Homo sapiens: one gene and its partners. The protein of the gene in region 3 interacts with the protein of the main gene of each other region in a pairwise test. Each region holds a gene or a part of one and is shown on either strand. Other genes may lie near its edges.

What was found.
Region 1: the proteins of HRH1 (region 3) and SLC35B1 interact in a two-hybrid assay, tested with the Homo sapiens proteins (one large-scale study listed by BioGRID and IntAct).
Region 2: the proteins of HRH1 (region 3) and LIMS2 interact in a two-hybrid assay, tested with the Homo sapiens proteins (one large-scale study listed by BioGRID and IntAct).
Region 4: the proteins of HRH1 (region 3) and SLC43A2 interact in a two-hybrid assay, tested with the Homo sapiens proteins (one large-scale study listed by BioGRID and IntAct).
Region 5: the proteins of HRH1 (region 3) and DHRS7 interact in a two-hybrid assay, tested with the Homo sapiens proteins (one large-scale study listed by BioGRID and IntAct).
Region 6: the proteins of HRH1 (region 3) and CNBP interact in a two-hybrid assay, tested with the Homo sapiens proteins (one large-scale study listed by BioGRID and IntAct).
Region 7: the proteins of HRH1 (region 3) and ADGRA3 interact in a two-hybrid assay, tested with the Homo sapiens proteins (one large-scale study listed by BioGRID and IntAct).

What each region holds. Positions count from the first base shown.
Region 1 is NC_000017.11:49,705,165-49,709,222, reverse strand, and holds the start of SLC35B1 (solute carrier family 35 member B1), read left to right. Parts: upstream 1-1,258; 5' UTR 1,259-1,278; coding exon of another isoform or gene 1,279-1,389; coding exon 1,390-1,493; intron 1,494-1,778; coding exon of another isoform or gene 1,779-1,880; intron 1,881-2,154; coding exon 2,155-2,258; intron 2,259-2,888; coding exon 2,889-3,019; intron 3,020-3,326; coding exon 3,327-3,357; intron 3,358-3,941; coding exon 3,942-4,058.
Region 2 is NC_000002.12:127,669,031-127,672,530, reverse strand, and holds part of LIMS2 (LIM and senescent cell antigen-like-containing domain protein 2), read left to right. Parts: intron 1-3,500. UniProt on the Homo sapiens protein: Adapter protein in a cytoplasmic complex linking beta-integrins to the actin cytoskeleton, bridges the complex to cell surface receptor tyrosine kinases and growth factor receptors. Plays a role in modulating cell spreading and migration.
Region 3 is NC_000003.12:11,258,993-11,262,492, forward strand, and holds part of HRH1 (histamine H1 receptor), read left to right. Parts: intron 1-10; 5' UTR 11-45; coding exon 46-1,509; 3' UTR 1,510-3,500. UniProt on the Homo sapiens protein: G-protein-coupled receptor for histamine, a biogenic amine that functions as an immune modulator and a neurotransmitter.
Region 4 is NC_000017.11:1,569,835-1,573,334, reverse strand, and holds part of SLC43A2 (large neutral amino acids transporter small subunit 4), read left to right. Parts: 3' UTR 1-3,500.
Region 5 is NC_000014.9:60,143,619-60,146,008, forward strand, and holds the end of DHRS7 (dehydrogenase/reductase SDR family member 7 isoform 1 precursor), read right to left. Parts: exon of another isoform or gene 1,396-2,390; coding exon 1,348-1,395; 3' UTR 501-1,347; downstream 1-500. UniProt on the Homo sapiens protein: NADPH-dependent oxidoreductase which catalyzes the reduction of a variety of compounds bearing carbonyl groups including steroids, retinoids and xenobiotics.
Region 6 is NC_000003.12:129,173,897-129,177,396, forward strand, and holds part of CNBP (CCHC-type zinc finger nucleic acid binding protein), read right to left. Parts: intron 1-3,500. UniProt on the Homo sapiens protein: Single-stranded DNA-binding protein that preferentially binds to the sterol regulatory element (SRE) sequence 5'-GTGCGGTG-3', and thereby mediates transcriptional repression. Has a role as transactivator of the Myc promoter.
Region 7 is NC_000004.12:22,436,067-22,439,566, forward strand, and holds part of ADGRA3 (adhesion G protein-coupled receptor A3 precursor), read right to left. Parts: intron 2,355-3,500; coding exon 2,190-2,354; intron 576-2,189; coding exon 374-575; intron 1-373. UniProt on the Homo sapiens protein: Orphan receptor that may have a role in planar cell polarity pathway.

The DNA of each region.
Region 1 (4,058 bases), on a different chromosome or scaffold from region 3:
AGTAAGCTAGTGAGCAAGAGAGCAAATGTATGGGGCTTTCCCATGCCACTAATATCGAGGAGACAGTGGGCTGGGGACACCCTATCTTCTATCCCTTACTCCTCCCTCTAAAAGACTTCTGGCTCCCCCGCAAAGCCTTATTGAGTCAGGCCCGGAGCGATGGGTGTGGTGCTGCCCAGTATTTCCTTCCTTTGCCTGAGGCTGTGCCAAAAGAGCAGGCTGCTAGAAGAGGAGCCTCGACCTAGAGAGCAGCCCAGAGTCCACCAGGTGGCCGGAGATTTGGGCCAATTAAGTAGGGGGTTGGAGGTAGTAGTAGGAAGACCTGAGGTCAGTCTTGCCCTGGCAATTCGTGCCAGCAAGTGAAGACCCAACACTTGCATGAGGAAGGGATCCAACGAGGAGCTCATTAATGGGAAATATTCAGGAGCGCGGCCGAAGGGTTTGCGCCATTGTTGGTGAGTTGTTAAGACTTGGAAGAAAACTGACTTCAGTAAGCTTCCATTTCCACCCCTCGATGTGAGGAAATAAGATCAGGGCTGACAAACAGTGATGACTAATAATACCTTAAGCTTGCACAGCATACTTTACAGTTTACAAAACACTCTTATTTGATCCTCACAACAGCCAAGAGGCGACAAGGTGGCTATTACTAATTATCCCTAGTTTCCAGACCTGGAAAACTCTGGCTCAGAACTTGGGTGACACGGGTAGGTTACCCCGCCTTTAAGTGACCAAGCCGAGACTTACTGTGCCGCTCTCCCCCTTGGAAGCCTAGTGATGTGCCTAGGTAATGAGCAGGTAAAGTCGCTGACGCTGGGCAGCAGCTAGACGGCGCTGAAGCTCCAGTAAGGAATTTGGCATTAGGACCCAGCAGAAGCCTGGCCGCCCGCCGCGGAAAAGACTATTGGATTTGCTCTGCCGACCACACCTCCTCCCGCCCCGCCTACCTGTCCGTCTTCGCACAGCGCAGCCAATTGGTGGCCTCCACATCCTTATACGTCATTATTCTACGCCCAGGTGGCTCTAGGACACCCTGTGGTGCTCTGGGTCGCAGTTGTCCTCAGAGTTGCCTGATTGGAAAAATCTCCAGGGCGAGGGATCAGTCTCGAGGCTGCCGGTTCCCCTGGCCCTCAGGGATGGAGCCAAGGTCCCAGGGCGGGTTTTCTTTCCTAGGAAGTGGTTGCTGGGTTCTGAGGAGTTTCCCCCTTGGCAGCCATGAGCCGGCAGTTCTGGTAGTGACTGCTGGGCCCTGCTGGACAGCGGTCGCATGCAGCTCCTATGAGGCCCCTGCCGCCGGTCGGCGATGTCCGGCTGGAGCTGTCGCCTCCGCCGCCGCTGCTGCCGGTGCCGGTTGTGAGCGGGTCTCCAGTCGGCTCCTCTGGGCGTCTCATGGCCTCTAGCAGCTCCCTGGTGCCCGACCGGCTGCGCCTGCCGCTCTGCTTCCTGGGTGTCTTTGTCTGCTATTTTTACTATGGGATCCTGCAGGAAAAGATGTGAGCGACCCCGGGGGCGGGCCGACAGTCTCTCCCCAGCCTGTGACAGGGATCCCGGGCCTTCTGCCTCTGGACCCGGGCTTTCCTCTTGTCCTCCTGCCCGGCTGTCGCCCTCTTAGCACCCTACTACTTTTGCAGCTATGGCTGAGCCTACCCAGAATTCCAGAACTCCAGGATTATTTTCTGGATTCTTCGGACTTGGTTATTTTCTTTTCTTAGCTGTTTTTCCCCGCTTGGTTCTAAGGGCCTGCGTTTTACAGGCTGAGACTTCTATTCCTCAAACAGGACCCGAGTCGGCCCCCTTTTGGTACTCCCAGATGCTTGCAAACAACCTATTCGTCCTCGGCCTTGGTGCCATAGCCGAAATACCGTCTCCTCCTGCCTGGGGTACCTGATTTCACTATCTCGTTCTGCATGTTTCCTCTCCGTCTTTTTCGGGTATTCTTTTCTTAGGCTTTGGAATCAGTAGGCTGGGATGTCTAGTTTCTAGATCCAGTAAAATCAGCCCCTTTTGCAAATGAGCCTAGTGGTCCTTAACAAACTCTGCCTACATCCAGAGAGGCAAGATAATTTTAAAGTTTTCAGTGGCTCGGGATATATTAGATGACAGTGAGTGAAATACACTAATTTCTCCCTCTTTTCTCATGCATTTCATTTCTAGAACAAGAGGAAAGTATGGGGAAGGAGCCAAGCAGGAGACGTTCACCTTTGCCTTAACTTTGGTCTTCATTCAATGTGTGATCAATGCTGTGTTTGCCAAGATCTGTGAGTACCCAGATAGTAATTTGTTGGGTACCCCACCACCCCAAGTTCCCTCAGTATGCTGGGCATTAAGCATTGATTCAACCTTAAAGGCTAACTCATGATCTCCACCCCATTTTGTACTTACACAGCCTCTCTGTGAAGTCTGTAAAACTAATGACTTTGAAGTGGAGTAAAATATTATTTCCCCAATTTTTATCAGCTTCTGAGTTAGAAATGTTCAGAGAATGGGTCTTCTATATTCCAAATCCCCATTGAAAATACTTAAAACATTTTTTTCTTTCCCTTTGAGTTTCTTTTGTGTGTCAGCTTCAAGCATGCTTTGAGCATTCTCTCTTTGTTCCCTGGGGACTAGCAGCAGAGCTGACTGGTCCCTTGAACTGAATGAGGCCCCCACCTCCACCCTGCATGTGGTCTTTTGTTGGGCTTAGGTAGAATTGGAAAGATGAATAATTTTCAGAGATTTCCCAGTGTAACAGGACAGAAATAGCTTGTGTCTTGTTTGACAGACAAGTTCCTTTCATGTGGCTTCAGCTTTGCTTAGTGGTCCATCCTAGCCCCACCAGGTTTCTCTTGTTTTTTTTTTTTTTTCTTTTCTTTTCTTTTTTTTTTTTTTTTTTTGTCTTCTCCCAGTGATCCAGTTTTTTGACACTGCCAGGGTGGATCGTACCCGGAGCTGGCTCTATGCTGCCTGTTCTATCTCCTATCTGGGTGCCATGGTCTCCAGCAATTCAGCACTACAGTTTGTCAACTACCCAACTCAGGTGAAACCTCAGGGTGGGATGATGGTTGGCTCAGATATCATTTGAAAAGGACTAAGAGTTCTTCCCTCAGGTCTGTGAGTTAAAAAAAAAAAAAAAAAAAAGATAACGGTCCTGTAAGACATTGGGAGTGTATAGAACCATAGAACTTACGTTTAGTGGTGGTGGGTTGGGCCATGATAGGGCTGCTTTCTGAGGCTGAGGTCTCTGGTGCAGGCCCTGTGCTTACTCATCTTAATCAGTGCGGTACCTAGCATAGTACCTGACACATCACAGATGCTCAGAAATTATTTGCTGGATTTAATTTCAGGTCCTTGGTAAATCCTGCAAGCCAATCCCAGGTAAGCAAAGAAGATGGTCTTCCTCTTCTGTCGTCACTCTTCCTATAGTAAGCTCTCTCTCTGCTACAACTGTGTCCCTCTCGGCTTCATCATCCCATCATGGCTGTCTCCAGGGACTTTCCCCCAGCTCTCCCTGCTGCCCATCCTGTCATCTGTGTCACTTCTTGTGATGTTCATAGGCTGGTAATCCTTAATAGGAGCTAAAGGCTGACCTAGCCTGCTTCACTTGGTCAGCCATTTCTGTGTTGCATGTGTTTATATTGTCATTAGACAACTTAATTCCCATTTTGATCATCAGTTTCTTTATCTCAACTTCTTTTCCTTCTCCACTGTTCCCTACCCTTGTCCTGTCCCTTCCTGGACTTTTCACCTTTGTTCTCTACCTCCTCCCTGTCTTATACTTAACCCTGTTGCTCAATCCTTATCTAGGTGCCAGCCTGGCACCCTCCTTTTGTCCTCTCTAAGCCTTCCTTCTCAGTCATTCTTTTCTCCCTGAGTCTTTTCTTGGTTCCTGGGAGGGAGGGCATTGGGGTCATCAATACCTTATGGATGCCTGAATTTTCCACTCTGTTTTTTCCCTGTAGTCATGCTCCTTGGGGTGACCCTCTTGAAGAAGAAGTACCCGTTGGCCAAGTACCTGTGTGTGCTGTTAATTGTGGCTGGAGTGGCCCTTTTCATGTACAAACCCAAGAAAGTTGTTG
Region 2 (3,500 bases), on a different chromosome or scaffold from region 3:
AGGATGCCCCTCCTGTGATGACAGGTGGGGGTGGATGGCATGCTTGGTGTGGTTGTGGAGTGCTTGAAGAGCTGTGGCAAGTCTGAGGGGGAGCCGTGGGAGGCACCTGGGCATGGAGGGGCTGAAGCCCAGGAGTAGCCAGCTGGGCAGGGAGTGAAGGCAGCCCAGAGCATGGGGTGGCACGCCGTGGGAAGAGAGGGGGCTCGGCCTCAGCAGCAACTCAGGGACTTTGCAACTTACAACCACAAGATCTTTGACTATCACAGCTGAAGGGACCTCTGGCATCACCATTGTTCTACAGGGAGGATATTAAGGCCACCTACCTAGGGACCCAGCTGTCCCTGGCATTCCTGGAAATGGAGCCTGGGATGTTGACACCCACGGCCACGTGAGCTCAGTGGCTTGGCTGCATAAAGTGGAGTCCCACCCATGGTGTGACCGTCATGTGTGTCACATGTGAGGCTGTCGTATGCCTGATTGTGTGCTGAGCCCATGCTTAGTACAGCGCAGAGCAGGCTGCTAGATCCCTGCCCTCATATCCACCAATCTTGCCCCTCCTCCGGGTGAGGAGTGTGCCCGGTGGTCCCCTAGGCAGAAGGTGTCGGCCAAGGGGCAGCTGACTGCAGCTAGAGCCCTCAGCACAGCACACGAGGCTGCAGTGGCGTCAGGGGCTTAAGCAAACTGTAAAGTGGGTAACAAGTGATGTGGCTTGTGATGTGGCACCACTGAGCCCTGAGCCCCAGACTGGGCCAGGTGGCACTGCCATGGCCCCTCACCTCCTTCCTTTTTCTTCTACTTCTGGTGCTGACTGGCCCCTTCTAGCCGGCCAGTGGCATAATAGGGATGGAGGGACTGATCTGCAGGGTGTCCAGTCCCGTGGTGTGATACCCCCACCTGGGCTCATTTCAAGCCACCAACATGGCATTAACGCTTTACGGAATTCCTGAATAGTTAACAGTCAGCACTTGTGAACTGGCAAGGGACAGCCCAGGGAGCCACTGGGGAGAGGAGCCCGGGCTTTCTATCCACAGCGGGTTATCCTTCTTCTGTCTGTCCCTATCTGTGCTGTGCCGCATGCAGGCTCTTTTTTTTTTTTTTGAGATGGAGTCTCGCTCTGTCACCCAAGCTGGAGTGCAGTGGCGTGATCTCAGCTCACTGCAACCTCTGCCTCCCAGGTTCAAGCAATTCTCTTGCCTCAGCCTCCCAAGTAGCTGGGACTACAGGTGCATACCACCACAACCGGCTAATTTTTTTTGTATTTTTATTGGAGATGGGGTTTTACCGTGTTGGCCATGGTGGTCTTGATCTTCTGACCTCTTGATCCACCCACCTTGGCCTCCCAAAGTGCTGTGATTACAGGCGTGAACAACCGTGCCCAGCCTGCATGCAGGCTTAACCATCCCTTAGGTCTTCACTTCCAGGTGGGAAAGGGGCCAAGGGAGGCACTGTCACTGTCTTGCTTGTTCTGTTGAGGTGTAGCGTGTACATTTCTGAAGGTGAATATTTACTTAGATGACTTAGCAGGATGACCACCCTAGTGAGATACCTCCATGAGTGAATGCATATGTCTTGCTGAGATGAGGTGACTGAATACACATATGAACATAAAACCTACTGTGTCCTCACCCACGTCCTTGGAGGAATACACGGGAAACTCATGGAGTTGTCTTCAGCCTCCCAGCGAGGAGTCTGGTGGGGGAGCTGGCTCTGGAGGACAGCCTGTTTGTGGCATCTCTGCCTCTGTCCGTCTCTGCCTCTGCCCACTGGGCTGAGGGCACGTGCCCCAGGGCCTTGGGGAGGCAGCCCTGCCTCATAGCTTGGGGCCTCAGTTCCAGCCTCTAAGAAGCCATGTAGTTGCATTCTTCATTACTCACGTGTTTTTTAAAATCTGAGACATAGTTCACATATTATTAAATTCACCACTTTAGATTGTAAAATTCAGTGGTTTTTCGTGCATTCACAAGGCTGTGCAACCATCACCATTAATTCCAGAACATTTTAATCATTCCTAAAAGAAACCTTGTACTCATTTGCAGACAGTCCTCATTTCCCCCTCCTCCCAGCCCTGGCCACCAGTAACCTGCCTTCTGTCTCTACAGATTTGTCTGTTCTGGACATTTCACATAAATGGAGCCATATATTATATAGCCTTTTGTGCCTGGCTTCTTTCATTTATTAACAACATATTTCCAAGATTCATCCGTATATTGTAGCATGAATCAGTACTTCATTCCTTTTTCTGGGTGAATAATATTCCATTGTGCCATAGTTTGTTTCTTCCTTCATCCGTGGTAGACATTTGCATTGTTTCCACTTTTTGGCTACCGTGAATAATACTGCTATGAACATTCCCATACAAGTTTTGGTGTGAACATACATTTTCTCCTTGAATATATACCTAGGACTGGAATTGCTGGCATATGGTAACTCTATGTTAAACTTTTTGAGGAATTATCAAGCTGTTTTCCAAGTAATTGAACAATTTTACATTTATTAAATTTTACACCAGGAATGTATGAAGGTTCCAATTTCCCGACATCCTTGCTGATGCTTGTTATTGTTGTCCGGTTTAGTAGGTGTGAAGTGGTGTCATATTGTGGTTTTGATTTCCATTTCCCTAATGACTGATAATGTTGAGCATCTTTTCATGTATCTGTTGGCCACTTGTAAATCCTCTTTGGAAAAATGTCCATTCAAACTCTTTGCCCATTTTTTAAATCGGGTTGTCTTTTTATTGTTGAATTGTAAGAGTTCCTTATTTATTTGAATACTAGACACTTCTCAGACATATGATTTGCAAATTTTTTTTTTTTAAGATGGAGTCTCACTGTGTCGCCCAGGCTGGAGTGCAGTAGTGCAATCTCAGCTCACTGCAACCTCCGCCTCCTGGGTTCAAGCGATTCTTCTGCCTCAGCCCCTCCAGTAGCTGGGACTACAGGCGTGTGCCACCATGCCTGGCTATTTTTTTTTTGTATTTTTAGTAGAGATGGGGTTTCACCATGTTGGCCAGGCTGGTCTCAAACTCCTGACCTCAGGTGATCCTCCCGCTTCAGCCTCCCAAAGTGCTGGGATTACAGGCACGAGCCACCGTGCCCAGCCGATTTACAAATATTTTTTCCTTTTCTGTGGATCATCTTTTCACTTTCTTGATTGTGTCGTTTGATACACACGTTTTAACTTTTAATGAAATCCAATTTATTTCCTTATTCTTTAGTTGCTTGAGTTTTTTTTGTCATGTTTAGGAAACTATTGCCTAATCCTGGCTCATGAAATGAAAACATCTGTTTTCTTCTAGGAGTTTTATACTGTTAGCATGTAGCTATCCAGTTGTCCTAGCATCATTTGTTGATAAGACTACTCTTCGCCCCATTGAATGGTCTTGGCACTCTTGTCAAAAATCAGTTGACCACAAATATATGGGATTATTTTTGGACTCTCGAGACAGGGTTTCACTCTTTCACCCAGGCTGGAGTGCAGTGGCAAGATCTTGGTACATTGCA
Region 3 (3,500 bases):
TTTCTCCCAGGGAGTGAGCCATAACTGGTGGCTGCTCTTGCGCCAATGAGCCTCCCCAATTCCTCCTGCCTCTTAGAAGACAAGATGTGTGAGGGCAACAAGACCACTATGGCCAGCCCCCAGCTGATGCCCCTGGTGGTGGTCCTGAGCACTATCTGCTTGGTCACAGTAGGGCTCAACCTGCTGGTGCTGTATGCCGTACGGAGTGAGCGGAAGCTCCACACTGTGGGGAACCTGTACATCGTCAGCCTCTCGGTGGCGGACTTGATCGTGGGTGCCGTCGTCATGCCTATGAACATCCTCTACCTGCTCATGTCCAAGTGGTCACTGGGCCGTCCTCTCTGCCTCTTTTGGCTTTCCATGGACTATGTGGCCAGCACAGCGTCCATTTTCAGTGTCTTCATCCTGTGCATTGATCGCTACCGCTCTGTCCAGCAGCCCCTCAGGTACCTTAAGTATCGTACCAAGACCCGAGCCTCGGCCACCATTCTGGGGGCCTGGTTTCTCTCTTTTCTGTGGGTTATTCCCATTCTAGGCTGGAATCACTTCATGCAGCAGACCTCGGTGCGCCGAGAGGACAAGTGTGAGACAGACTTCTATGATGTCACCTGGTTCAAGGTCATGACTGCCATCATCAACTTCTACCTGCCCACCTTGCTCATGCTCTGGTTCTATGCCAAGATCTACAAGGCCGTACGACAACACTGCCAGCACCGGGAGCTCATCAATAGGTCCCTCCCTTCCTTCTCAGAAATTAAGCTGAGGCCAGAGAACCCCAAGGGGGATGCCAAGAAACCAGGGAAGGAGTCTCCCTGGGAGGTTCTGAAAAGGAAGCCAAAAGATGCTGGTGGTGGATCTGTCTTGAAGTCACCATCCCAAACCCCCAAGGAGATGAAATCCCCAGTTGTCTTCAGCCAAGAGGATGATAGAGAAGTAGACAAACTCTACTGCTTTCCACTTGATATTGTGCACATGCAGGCTGCGGCAGAGGGGAGTAGCAGGGACTATGTAGCCGTCAACCGGAGCCATGGCCAGCTCAAGACAGATGAGCAGGGCCTGAACACACATGGGGCCAGCGAGATATCAGAGGATCAGATGTTAGGTGATAGCCAATCCTTCTCTCGAACGGACTCAGATACCACCACAGAGACAGCACCAGGCAAAGGCAAATTGAGGAGTGGGTCTAACACAGGCCTGGATTACATCAAGTTTACTTGGAAGAGGCTCCGCTCGCATTCAAGACAGTATGTATCTGGGTTGCACATGAACCGCGAAAGGAAGGCCGCCAAACAGTTGGGTTTTATCATGGCAGCCTTCATCCTCTGCTGGATCCCTTATTTCATCTTCTTCATGGTCATTGCCTTCTGCAAGAACTGTTGCAATGAACATTTGCACATGTTCACCATCTGGCTGGGCTACATCAACTCCACACTGAACCCCCTCATCTACCCCTTGTGCAATGAGAACTTCAAGAAGACATTCAAGAGAATTCTGCATATTCGCTCCTAAGGGAGGCTCTGAGGGGATGCAACAAAATGATCCTTATGATGTCCAACAAGGAAATAGAGGACGAAGGCCTGTGTGTTGCCAGGCAGGCACCTGGGCTTTCTGGAATCCAAACCACAGTCTTAGGGGCTTGGTAGTTTGGAAAGTTCTTAGGCACCATAGAAGAACAGCAGATGGCGGTGATCAGCAGAGAGATTGAACTTTGAGGAGGAAGCAGAATCTTTGCAAGAAAGTCAGACCTGTTTCTTGTAACTGGGTTCAAAAAGAAAAAAATAATAAAAATAAAAGAGAGAGAGAATCAGACCTGGGTGGAACTCTCCTGCTCCTCAGGAACTATGGGAGCCTCAGACTCATTGTAATTCAAGCTTTCCGAGTCAAGTGATTGACAACTGAAGAGACACGTGGCTAGGGTTCCACTGGAGAATTGAAAAGGACTCTTGAGCCCTCCTGGAATGGAGCTGTATAACTGTGCAGAGACTTTATCCATGCCAATAGTTGCTGTCCCCTTCCAGGGGTCACCTTGAGAGGCATGACAGCTGTTCCACAGGGGCTATCCCTTCTCAGAAAACTTCTCTTCTGAGCCTCTTTAACAGCTTTCTCCAGAACCAGTGTCTGAACCACCCTGGAAATTCTGCCTTATTATTTCTTACTCAAACATGTTTAGAGTGGATAGAAAATTATGCAGCTTGCACACCCATCGTCTTTAACCCCAAATTTCCTTTGGCTATTAAAAAAGTGGTGGCAAAAGACATCCTCAAAAGAAAGAGAAATGAAATATTTTTGAATGGTTGCACGTTAAAAATTAAAAGAAGGAATGGGGGCAGAATGCCATATTTTTGAGGGCTGTACTAGGTTTATCTCATTTAAGCCCCACAACACCCCACAGGAGGGTAATTTTCTAACTCTAGTTTGCAGAGGAGCAAATTGAGGTTCAGCAAGGTGAGAGAGGTACCCAAGGTCACATAGCTAGTTATGTGAGAAAGTTAGAGTACAGATCCTCTGGGGTTTCAGCTTATTGTAGCATATTTTCTCCGAAAGGCAAAAATGTGCCCTTTTGGCCGGGCATGGTAGCTCAAGCCTATAATCCCAGCATGTTGAGAGGCTGAGGTGGGCAGATCATTTGAGGCCAGGAGTTCAAGACCAGTCTGGCCAATATGGAGAAACCTTGTCTCTACTAAAAACACAAAAATTATCTGGGCATGGTGGGGCATGCCTGTAGTCCCACTTACTTGGGAGGCCGAGGCACGAGAATTGCTTGAACCCGGGAGGTGGAGGTTGCCGTGAGCCAAGATCACGCCACTGCACTCCAGCCTGGGCAACAGAGCAAGACTCTGTCTCAAAAAAAAAAATACAATATTTTAACAATGTGCCCTCTTAAGTGTGCACAGATACACATACACGGTATTCCCAAGAGTGGTGGCAGCTCAAAATGATATGTTTGAGTAGACGAACAGCTGACATGGAGTTCCCGTGCACCTACGGAAGGGGACGCTTTGAAGGAACCAAGTGCATTTTTATCTGTGAGTTCTGTTGTGTTTGTCAAAAAGTCATTGTAATCTTTCATAGCCATACCTGGTAAGCAAAAACTAGTAAAGACATAGGAACATGTAGTTTTACTTGGTGTTTATGTTGCAATCTGGTTGTGATTTATATTTTAAAGCTTGGTGCTAAACCACAATATGTATAGCATATGGAGTGCCTGTACAAGCTGATGTTTTGTATTTTGTGTTCCTCTTTGCATGATCTGTCAAAGTGAGATATTTTTACCTGCCTAAAATATGATGTTTAAAAGCATACTCTATGTGATTTATTTATTTCTACCTTTCTGAGTCTCTTGGACTAAGAAGATGTTTTGAAATGTACCATCAAATGTTAACAGAGTTTGATATGGGCTTTCTCTTTGGTTTCTCATCACATTTGTAAATGTCTTTTCAAAAGGATTTACTTTTTGTAAAAAGCTTCATTCTCACTCTGCTTTGCATCCCCCAAACTTC
Region 4 (3,500 bases), on a different chromosome or scaffold from region 3:
TCCAAATGGAGACTCCAGGTCTTGCCGCTGACCGGTGACTCTGCTGCCAGCATTTGAGACCCGCCATCACACAGGAGTTGCAGATTCGGAGAAACCCTAACTAGCCAGGGTGCTGCCAGCTGGGAAAAGGCCGCCTTTTTTTTTTTTTTTTTTTTTTTGAGTTGGGGTCTTGCTCTGCCATCCAGGCTGGAGTGCAGTGGTGCAACTGATAGCTCACCACGGCCTCCAACTCATGGGCTCAAGGGATCCTCCCACCTCGGCCTCCTAAGTATCTGGGACTATAAGTGTGTGCCACCATGCCTGGCTAATTTTTTTTTTCTTTTTCATAAAGATGAATTCTTGCTATTTTGCCCAGGCTGGTCTGGAACTCCTGGGCTGAAGCAATTCTCCCACCTCAGCCTCCCAAAGTGCTGAGATTACAGGCGTGAGTCACAATGCCTAGCCAAAAAGCCAGTCTTGAGATGGGGAAGACGTGGCCCGTGCTGTCCCCAGCAGTGCCCAGTCCCAGCCAAAGTGGGCAGTGCTGCCTCACTCTCCCACCCACCCTCAGGGTGTGGCACTTACTGGGAAGAAGCAGGCATTGAGAAACAGAATTGAGGGGGGGAAACAGTCCAGGGCCAACAGTGCTTGGGGATTGAGGCCTGAAAATGCGAGCAGGGTACAGAGGCTGTGGCTGGCCAGATGGGTCGGGTGCCCCCTGCACTCCCACCCCCTAGTCAGGGGTCACCCATCCTACTTTGCCTTGTGTGGAGCTGACAGGTGACATGTTTTCCTATTGTTGTCCTTGACTTGATAACAATCTGGGAGTTAAACACATATGATCATCCCTGCTTTACAACTGAAAAACGAGGCCTAGAGATACTATCATCATATACACCTGAAAAACGAGGCCTGGAGCGATGGAGGAGCTTGTTCAAGGTCAGAGCCAGCACTCATATATGGGTCTTAAGACACTGGAGCAGCCAAGGGCCTCTAGACCAGGACATTCCACTCGGAGCAGCAGCTCAGGGGCCACCAGGCCTCTGTGGCAGGGGGACCTCTGTGGCAGGGGGGACCTCTGTGGCGGGGGGGGGGCCTCTGTGGCAGGGGGGTCACAGCCCAAGGAAGGGGAGCAGGCCCAGGCATGGTTTCCGTTTCTGGGAGCCAAGAGCCTTCTCAGAAGAGGGGGAGAGAGCTACTGCATGGAATCATTTGGGCCCTGGAGGCTGATGGGTACTTGGGGGAGCAATCCCTGGTGACCCCAACCAGCAAGACAAGTGCCCTGTGAAGGGGAAGGGACTACAGCTGATCAAAGGAGCAGGCACCAGTGGCCGGGCCTCCCGTCTGCCCCTCATCCTCCAGGCTCTGGCGGGAAGGAGCAGGAAGGGCTCCCTGCCCTTGGGGTTTTGATCAGTGAGGAGGGGGGCTTGGGTCTGAGTCTGGGTCTGGGTCTGCTGCCGAAACACTGCCCCCAGTCCCTCTCCTCACTAGACTCTGGGGTCTAGGCGTGTCTTTGTGGTCGGCCTTCTCCAAACCCTCTAGGCCTCTGTCTGCAGCTGCTGCTGCCTGGACCTATACACAAGGTCCCACCCCTCACCGGGGCCAAAGACGTGGTTGCAGGCCCTGGTGGATCCTTTCTGTTTTGCTCCATCCCCGTCCCCTCTTGCACCCAGCATCGTCCTGGTCAGAACTTCCGTTTAAACCTTCCTTGCCTGCCGTGCACTCCGAGGGGGGCGTCACTTTGCCATAGGCCCCAGGGCTGAAAATGGCGGGACATCCAGTATTGGGCTCACGTGCATAAGACTGTCCCAGACAGCAGCACAATCACGTTCAGCCAAGTGGAGTTTCCGACGCACTTGTGTGGCAGCCGCGTGAATGTGAGCCGATATGCAGCTGGGAGGGGTTGTGGGCCTCCTGCGGTGAGGGGCTCCTGCCAGGAGCTCTGAGAAGCCTCCACAGAATCAGCCGTCGGGCTCCTTCAGCAGCAGCTCCCCTTATCTGTGCCAACGACTGGGGGCCTAACTCAAGGGTGCCAGCCCGTCTTCCGCCAATACAGACTGTGGGATTCTGAGAGTTAGGAGCCTGGGGTCCCCTGGGGTGGGGTGGTCAGGGTGAGCAGGTGGGCTCTGTGAGCCTGTTTCCCCATGCCCTGACTCACCCCAATCCCTGGGTGAGGACAGAGCTCCTGAAGGCCACTGAAGGAGGTGCAGCACACTCCACCTGGGTGGCCTTCCGCAGCTCAGCCCTCTTCCTGCCAGCAGGAAGCCTCTGCCTGTGCTCCTTAAGTTAGCCATCCTCACCCCCTCCGGGCAGCTCTGAGACTGAGCCAGGGCCACTAGCAGCACCCAGACCTCGACCCTTCTCAGACCGAGGCGCCACCACCCCAGGCCGAGGAGGCAAGGAGGGAAGACCAAAGTCTAGAGGACTGTCTTGGTGGCCCTGGGCGAGTCTTGAACTTTGGTGCCATCATCTGCAAAAGGGAGGAAAGAATGCCTGCGTGGTGCAGCTACGTGGATACGCAGTGAAGACCCGCATGGTGGGACGCCTGGCACTTAACAATGGTAGCATTTGGCCGGGCGCGGTGGCTCACGCCTGTAATCCCAGCACTTTGGGAGGCCGAGGCGGGCGGATCACGAGGTCAGGAGATCAAGACCATCCCGGCTAAAACGGTGAAACCCCGTCTCTACTAAAAATACAAAAAATTAGCCGGGCGTAGTGGCGGGCGCCTGTAGTCCCAGCTACTTGGGAGGCTGAGGCAGGAGAATGGTGTGAACCCGGGAGGCGGAGCTTGCAGTGAGCCGAGATCCCGCCACTGCACTCCAGCCTGGGCGACAGAGCGAGACTCCGTCTCAAAAAAAAAAAAAAAAACAATGGTAGCATCGTTTTCAGTGCCCAGGAAGAAGGCAGCTGGGACAGGGAAAGGGCCACCACACCACACCCAAGCCCATACAACAGGAGAGCCACTTTCAGCAGCTCTGAGCAGGACAGACTTGTGGCCAAGTCAAGAAAGTAAGGTCTGGTCCCAGCGAGGTGGCTCATCCCTGTAATCCCAGTGCTTTGGGAGGCCGAAGCGGGGGCGGGGTGGATCACTTGAGGTCAGGGGTTTGAGACCAGCCTGACCAACATGGTGAAACCTCAACTCTACTAAAAATACAAAAATTAGGGCCGGGCGCAGTGGCTCACGCCTGTAATCCCAGCACTTTGGGAGGCTGAGGCGGGCGGATCACAAGGTCAGGAGATCGAGACCAACGTGGCTAACACAGTGAAACCCCATCTCTACTAAAAATACGAAAAAAAAAAATTAGCTGGGCGTGGTGGTGGGTACCTGTAGTCCCAGCTACTTGGGAGGCTGAGGCAGGAGAATGGCATGAACCCGGGAGGTGAAGCTTGCAGTGAGCCGAGATTGTGCCACTGCACTCCAGCCTGGGCGACAGAGCAAGACTCCGTCTCAAAAAAAAAAAAAAAAAAAAAAAAAGTAAGGTCTGTATCTGCTGACCCCACCCTTCTCCGAAGCCCTCTCC
Region 5 (2,390 bases), on a different chromosome or scaffold from region 3:
TACATATCCATGTTGTTATGTATGCATTTATTCCATTGCTTCTACCCGCTATACCTCATCGTGTACCTCTACCACATGTCATCTTCCCCCTTTTCCAAGGACAGCCACTTGGGTGGCTTCCAACTTGCCCAACAACTATTCTACAGTTATTTTATGTATGTTACTTTGGCTCCAGCTCAATTGTGAACTGCTTGTAGATAAGGACCATGTTTTTCTTTACCTGTTACTCCTGCTGATTTCCTATTAGTGCCTGTGCATGTTTTCTGCTGTAAGGTGTTAAATGTTAAAGTAAAATTAATAATAGTAGAAGTAAGGAGTTGCCAGTGGAATCTTCCTGAGCTGAATCTAATCATGGCTTTACCCCTTACTAGCTTTGTGACCTTGACCTTGGAAAAGTAAAACCTTGTTGGTCTTTCTTCATCTATCAAGGTAGGTAATACCATCTATCTTAGTGGGCTGTTATGAGGAATGAGTTAATTAACTAATACTAAGCACTCCAGTACAGTAGAAGACATACAACAGGTGTTTAATGAATAATAGGTGCAATGAATCCTACCTGCTGCTTCAAATTACAGCCATCTGTACCTGTCAACTTTTCTAAGAGTATAAGCATCTTGGAGGTAAGGTCATTTCAAATACTTCTTTATATCTGGTCATTACCCAGCACTCTGCTTTGTGTGAAATATTCTATACATTTATGTTGCTATGGTTTGGATGTTTTTGTCCCCTCCAAAATTCATGTCGAAACTTAATCCCCAAAGCAACAGTATTAAAGGATGTGGCCTTTAAGAGGTGACTGAGTAATGAATGAGATTAAATGCTCTTTTGAAAGCATTTTGCTCCTCTTTCCCTTCTGTCCCTTCCACCATGTGAGGACATACATTCCTCCACTGTGGAGGATGCAGCAATGAGGTGCCATCTTGGAAGCAGAGATCAGCCTTCACCAGACACTAATTCTGCTGGTGCATTGGTCTTGGAATTCCCAGCCTCAAGAGCCAGGAAAAACAGATTTCTGTTGTTTATAAATTACCAAATCTGTGGTATTTTGTTATAGCAGCACAAATGGACTAAGACAAATCTGTTAACTTAGATTTTAAGCATATGTGCTAAAGTATTTTAAAAGGTTATTTTATCCAAGAATATAGTATGAGTTAATACCTTTTTTGCAAGATTCATGGCAATCTTTTATTATTTATTTTTTATTTCATTCCATGTTGGAAGCAAAGTCATATCTATTAAAAAGTAAAATCACAAATTAGTCTTTGATTATTCAGAAGCATAAGAAGATTGCTGTTTTCATGTTTTCCATTTCTCCCTCCAGTGGCTTGAAAAGTACAGGTGCTCTTTTCAGTCATGTTTTGTCTTAAAGATTTTAAAATAAGAAGAGTCTGCATCCTGTAAAAGAGGGACAGAAACATGGATCAGTACCTACTCCTATTTACTCCAGTTTTTAACATTTAAGTCCTTCTGTTTTGAGGAGCTGTATCATTATGATTCACTATTAAGAATCTTTACAAAAGTTCAGAAACTGCTTAAATTAGAATTTAAAAATCATAGCCAAAATTCTAGATGTACACAAAAGTACTTCTAATGAGTTTAGCATCATCTCTGGTTTAGAGGAGGTATAAATAGCATTGGACTGCAATGCTAAATTCTCTATAATGACTTTTCTGGATCAGCATATCATACCTACACTGACTTGCCCTAATAAATAAAAACAATGAGTCAGATTATGTAGAATTGAGATATATGGAAGATAACTCTTTAAAATTATTTGTGGCCAGGCAGGCACTGTGGCTCATGCCTGTAATCCCAGCACTTTGGGAGGCCGAGGTGGGCAGATCACCTGAGGTCAGGAGTTAGAGACCAGCCTGGCAAAACCCCATCTCTACTAAAAATACAAAAATTAGCTGGGTGTGGTGGTGTGCACCTGTAATCCCAGCTACCCGGGAGGCTGAGGCAAGAGAATTGCTTGAATCCAGGAGGCGGAGGTTGCAGTGAGCTGAGACTGCGCCATTGCACTCCAGCCTGGCCAACAAGAGGGAAACTCTGTCTCAAAAAAAATAAAAAGAAAAAAAAATTATTTGTGAACTTTTTGTATATTGCTTAAGGAATAAAACAAGGCAACCTGATAATCCCCAAGATGTGATGTTTCTTTTCAGAAGATATGCATTTACCACTTTCAAAACTTTGCACTAAGAAAGACAAAATAATAATAATGATAATACAAAATTCAGTGTAGCCACTGTTCTTGATCCCTAAAAATAATAAAGATTCATAAAAACAAAGTTCCAGACATACAGACTAAAGAAGCAAATTCTAGTTAACAAGTACTATTAGCTTGAAATAAGCTATGCTAGCATTTTCTTAACTTAGACGCTTATCAATAA
Region 6 (3,500 bases), about 120 Mb from region 3:
AAAACGCAGTCCGAAAAATGGCAAGGTTCTCCACTTTCAGTAACTGTTTAATCATTAACTTGTGGACAAATTTAGTGACTTAAAATTACACTGAAGTTGAGTTTCAAAAAGTTCCCATTGTCAAATATACAAAAGAAAATAACACAATACTCACTTACCCCAACTCTGTGTAATCTGATTTAGGATAAATTCTTAGAGAAATCTTTCTACTAACTCTTGCCACTTGCCTATGAACATATTACCAAAAAAATTATATGGCTATGAGTTACTGGTGCTTTCAGATATACAAAACATTTCTAGTCAGAACAAACAGCCAGTGAAGGATATTAAAAACAGATTTTTACAGAATTTGAAATAGTATCTGCTTTGTAATCATTCTTTTAACTGTACTAGTATTAGCATCCTAAATTATGTGAAGTATTTGCTGGTTTCCACCACAGAAGAGTCAGAATTAAAAAAAAAAAAAAAAAAAAAAAAACGAATGGCGGGCAGGGCACGGTGGCTCACACCTGTAATCCCAGCACTTTGGGAGGCCGACGAGGATGGTTCACCTGAGGTTGGGAGTTCGAGACCAGCCTCACCAAGAAGGAGAAACCCCGTCTCTACTAAAAATGCAAAATTAGCCAGGCTTGGTGGCTCATGCCTATAATCCCAGCTACTCAGGAGGCGGAGGCAGGATAATCTCTTGAACCCGGGAGGTGGAGGTTGTTGCAAGCCAAGCAATTGCACTCCAACGTGGGTTACAAGAGTGAAACTCCATCTCAAAAAAAAAAAAAAAAAGGCATATAAAATGGTCAAAGAAAAAAGGCTGCTTATGGCACCACTTCCTCCCCATCTTCATTTTGTATCTTCTCCAATTTAGTCAGATCAGCTTGAGCTCATTTAACTATTGATCTCAAGGAATTATTTGCACATAAATGATTACTTTTACAGTGTAATCCAGACAATTTGCAAGGCCTGAATATCTTATAATTTAATATTTAAACAAGATACATCTCTTTTAGAAAATACAAAACAAGGATGGGCACAGTGGCTCACACCTGTAATCCCAGCACTTTGGGACGCCAAGGCAGGAGGATCACCTGAGGTCAGGAGTTGGACATCAGCCTGACCAACACAGTGAAACTCCATCTCTACTAAAAACACAAAATTAGGGCAGGCGTGGTGGCTCACGCCTGTAATCTCAGCACTTTGGGAGGCAGGCGGATCATGAGGTCAGGAAATCAAGACCATCCTGGCCAACATGGTGAAACCCCAAATCTACTAAAATAAAAAAATTACCCAGGCGTGGTGGTAACGCGCCTGTAGTCCTAGCTACTCGAGAGGCTGAGGCAGGAGAATCGCTTGAACCCGGGAGGTGGAGGTTGCAGTGAGCTGAGACTGGGCCACCACACTCCAACCTGGGTGACAGAGCAAGACTCCGTCTTCAAAGAAAGAAAGAAAGAAAAAAAACTATTCTGTAAAACAGATATGCATCTCAGTGGCAAAGGCAGAACTTTACACACTAGAATATAACAGAAGTTTTAGATGTTTTGCTTTTTTTTTTTTTTTTTTGAGACAGTCTCGCTCTGTCACCAGGCTGGAGTGCGGTGGCGCCATCTTGGCTCACTGCAACCTTCACCTCCTGGGTTCAAGCGATTCCCCTGCCTCAGCCTCCCACATAGCTGGGACTACAGGCGTGCACCACCACGCCCAGGTAATTTTTTGTATTTTAGTAGAGACGGGGTTTCACCATGTTGGCCAGGATGGTCTCGATCTCCTGACCTAGTGATCCACCCGCCTTGGCCTCCCAAAGTGTTAGGATTACAGGCGTGAGCCACTGCGCCCAGCCTGTTTTGCCATTTTTAGTCACACATAATTTTGTTTACTAGAGTAAATTAATGCTAATAAAGAAAACACTAAGTCTTAAAAGGGAAGAAAAACATTAATAGCCTCCAAATGTCATCAACATGACACGTGATTTTAAAAGAGGTCTTTGAGTGGCCTTAGGTACTATGTATGCAATCTGCCCTCTCCTCCCTTTGGCTAACCCTATCGCAGTGAATCAGGTGGTCTACAGTTTCACTGGTAACTGGTCCCTTGTGATAGACTTGTCTCTTTAATAACATTATTAAACTAACCACTTTCCACAATGTTTTAGACTCACACTACTTATATTAGGCAGCAGGTCCCCATCCTAGCACTCATCTCATATGAACATTATTTAGTTTAAAGGTCTTTACAGAATTCCATGATATTCCTTAGGAAAACTAAGGTAAGGTAAGACAGCTGAGAATCATGGCTCCATGAGTCTGTCTCATTGCCTGTGACTGCTCCTGGCTGGAATTTCACTGCACTGTCCTGGTCTCCCCTGCTCCTTTTCCACCTGTCACAACTTTTTCCAACCTTCACGGGCCAACTCAAATGCCAACTCTATAAAAGAATCTGACTACATCTCCCAGCCTGGAACTACCCTCCCTATTAAGTCCCAAGACACTTTGTTAATATCTGTCTAATGGCAGTACCATATTGCCTTGTATCATATTCCTTGAAGGTAGAGACCAAGTAATTCACCTTTGAATCATCGAACACCCCATATAGTTATCCTTTTAGTAGCCATTATGTAACTCAGTATTTTAATTCTAGGGGGACAGGTGTCTTTAGCAATTTGGTGAAACTAACTGACCCAATCCAATCTAATCAAGTACTAACAACAAAGCACCTAAATTATTGCTATCAGTCACAAGAGTTACTGCACCATTAATTTAAAGTAATGATGTATTCTCAATTTTGTACTCACTAAGGACTGACTACAGTCACTCTCTGAAACTCTCAGCTTTCTGAAATCATAGGTGAGATTCTGCCCAGATGAATTTAGGATCCACAACTTTCAGCTTCTGACAGGGATTAGGGCCAACCACTCAAAGGACATTCCCAATGTAATTTTTTTTTAAATCCACTAACAGAAGTATCTTCTACTTGTCAATGTTATTTTGAGGATTCCAATCTATAATAAAGCAAATACTAGAAAATATCAAAGGAAGAAAGCTGCTGAATCATAAAACCATGAAAATTAGATTTCAGATTATCTAACACAATCCCCACGTGTGGCTGAGAAATTTACACCCAAGACAACTAAAAAAGCCAGCAACCAGGCCAGAACCTCTAATTTGTCATCCAGGTTCTGTTAGTCCAAGAATTCATAATCAATTGGATTTCAGTACTATTTTATGCAAGCTACAAACATACATGCTAACTTCAATAAAAACCAAAATACTGTTTTTCACTTTTGTCAGGCAGCAGGAAAACACTTAAGTTTCTTCCTTTTGCTAAAAACCACTAATATAAGGCACCACTTACTGAAGGTTCCTTGGGTTTGTGTTTTCTCTGGAAAAAATTTTTCGTGAAACCTGATGTACGTATACTGCACTGATGTAGCCTGCCTGACACTGTAAGAGATTTTGGAACCATACTCAACCTGGGTTAATCACTTAACCCAGTTTAACTACTTGCTGTGTTAC
Region 7 (3,500 bases), on a different chromosome or scaffold from region 3:
CAAAAAGCACATGAGTAGTTCAAGTATTCTAAGCAATCGCTTTCAACAAAGTGATTATAAAATGAATCCAAGAGGTGGCTTTCAATGTGAACTCGAAGGATGGTTAGGATTCTGTCTGGTGGATACAGATTAAAAAAAAGATATTCAAACAAAGGCACAAAGGGAGATGGTGACTGCAAAGGAAGGATTCTATAGAGGGCCTTGACTAGTGATTAAGATGGACCTGATCCTGAAGACAGTTAAGTCAACTAAAGTAAAAACACAAAATCCTTATGTTTTGCCTAGTATTAAAAAAAAAAAAAAAACTTATGTATTTGGTTTGAATACCATGTTTTCTCCACAACCCAAGTAAACATGAAGACTTTCTAGTTACCTGATTAAACATATAAAGAACTCTAGTGACATCATTTGCATACTGACAGCGAGAATAATCATCATCTGCCCAAAAGCCACCTCTATCACATCTGCGCCAAGCTTTTCTCTCATCCTGTGGGTTTCCGGGATATATCCCACTGCCATGGGTGTTCCGCGTACACTGCAGATATGCAGTAATGCCTGCCAATGTTCTGGGCCATCTAGAGATGAAGACAAAATAGTACAAGAAAATCTAAATGACACGGGTACATCAAGAATAACAACAGCAGAGAAAAAAATCAAAGATGAAGATGTGTCATGTCAATACAACCCTGACACGGGTCATCAAAACTGGGCTGGGAGAAACCTTTGTTATTTGAACTCTATGTCTCCAAAACTGAGAATGAAATTCAACATGTTTAATACAAGTTACCATGGATGCTCATCACAGGAACCACTAAATGACAGTATCAGTCACACCAAAACAGAATTCATTACAAAAACCACATAAATAGATCAAGCAACACTAAACTAAATCTTATTAATGCAGTGGGAATTTAATTGCATAATATCTTAAGGAGTGTCAAAGACAAATAATTCATTGATCTATAAACATTTAATTGCTCTATTTTTAAAAATGTAAAGCACTCAAAACTATGAGAATATAGAAAATCTACCATAAATAGTAAATATCATATTAGGATTATTTGATAAAAGATGTTGAATGTAACAAAATTACCAAATATCATATATTTCACTTAAAAGCATGTACTATAAATATTATAGATCAATACCTAATCTACATAAAAGACTTATCCATTGGCAATAATAAATGTTGATTTCCATATATTGATGTCAAGAATAACTTTTTTAAAAAGAGCAATGGCAAACTAGCTGAGATAAAGATGTTATTATTGCTTCTTTACTTTGGATTTAAAAGATTAACACCAAAGGGTTTTCCCACCCTTGAAACACTGAGGTTAGAGACAGGAGGTAACAACTGAACCCATTAGAGACAATGCAAACTGGGTAATAAACAATCTTTATGCTGCTTCAAAGAATAACATATTTCCCTTTGTTCATATCAACTATAAACTCATTTTTTAAATCCCTGAACATAAATAAGATCAAGTAAATAAGATATTTAAAGATGTCTTAAAGCACCTTTGAAAGTAAAGAGAGTTTAAGGTAAAAGCTGTCATCTCTTGCAAATCCTAAACTTTCTACTAAAATAAAAAAATAAATAAATAACTCCCTTTGCTTAGATTAACAAACCCCACCTGGGATTCCATGGCTCCCCAAGTTTCAGGCTACCCAACAGCTTTCATTTCCCAAAGTCCTTCTTGCTTGATTTCCAGAAGAACTGAACAAGGGGAGAAAATTAGATAGGTGTTTCTTCTAATTCTGATGCCTACTGAACTGCCAGTAGTGAAAAGTACCTTAGCAATATAAAACCTTCCAAGGTTCATCTATAAAAGAGCCACTGGGGGGAAAAAAAACAGAAAATACCTTACTTAACCTGTTTGAATTTTGTACTCTTTTACCAGAATATCTCCAATGTTTCCCTAAGGCAATGGCTCTTACACAACAAAACCATTTGTTAAAAATGACTCTACTTTCAGAGATTCTTCAATCAACAGGTCTGAGATAAAGTTCAAGCACCCCTTTTGTTCATCTCCATATGTGATTCTGAAATCATTATTCTAAAGGGTAGTCCTCAGACATGTGCAGTTCTCAAATTTTGTTACTCAGGACAGGAAACCAATAATGTGTCTTAGACAACAGAAGGATCTGGGACAAATTAAACTTTTCCCCGTATTTTCCACAACACTGACCTGAAGTCACCTTTGTTGTTTACCACCCTCTCTGGAGGACAGTACTGTGCAGAACTCTCTAATACCACAATATCCACAGTCCTCGTATTATTCCCACGTTTGGTCTGGACATGACAGCCCCAATTTCCAGTAGATCCAGCCTGAATATTAGAAATGGTTAGGGCACTGCATAAAGAAAGATTTTAAAAAGAGAGAAAATATAATTAGGCAAAAAAGGAGACAATAATGGGTCTCAATCATTAATTTAGCAAATATTTTTGAATGCATATTGTGGGGTAAGCACTTGCTATATAAAAATGAATTTAAAAAATGATTCCTTCCTTTAAATCCTTCAATCTCAAGGCAAAAAAGGAAAGAGATCTTTAAAATACACAATCAGGGCAATAAGAGACATATGAATCAAATGCAATGCTATACGACGCATGAGAATTCTCCTTGCAGAAATAGGGAGAGCAGAACACTTTACAGAACAGGAATGGCAAGTAATCCCAGCACTCTGGGAGACAGAGGCGGGTGGCAGGAGTTCAAGACCAGCCCAGCCTTCAAGATCAGCCTGGCGAAACCCTGTCTACACTAAAAATATTTTTAAAAGTTAGCCGGGTGTTGTGGCAGACACTTGTAATCCCAGCTGCTTGGGAGGCTGAGTGAGGCTGGAGGATGGCTTGAACCCAGGAGGCGGAGGTTGCAGTGAGCCAAGAGAGCACCACTGCACTCCAGCCTGGGTGACAGAGCAAGTCTCTGTTTCATACACACAAAAAAAGAACAGGAATGGCAAGCCCAAAGGCAGAAACATCGTCGTACATTCTTTAGCAAAACTTAGAGAAGTTTCCAAGTCACATCTCCCTTCTCACAGATTCTGAAGAAAATATTCAAACATGAAAAAAGAAGATTATTACGAATTTACATAATTAAGAAAATGTTTAAGGTAAAATATAAAGGGTTACACTAGAAACAAACCAGTTACCTCCCTAAAAAGATTTAGTAAATTACCAATTAATACTTTCACAAAAGGTTTCTGTGTTAAGGTATATTTCAATTCATAAAACAGCTGTGTTTCTAAATGGCTGTCAGTAAATCCAATTTCCAAGATGAAATCATAATTCTCTAATATAAAACCTATTAATTAAGGAGCAAATGTCAGAGCCTTCAATTAACCTTTATTTCCCCCACAGGACCCAGTATGCGTTGCTGTTATGTAGACACAAATGATAAGAAATAATTAGACAGAAAGTATGTATCATTTTAATTAACTTACAAAATTATGTCTTAAAGTAAATACACATTTGTCCGATCTCCTAAATCATTGACGGC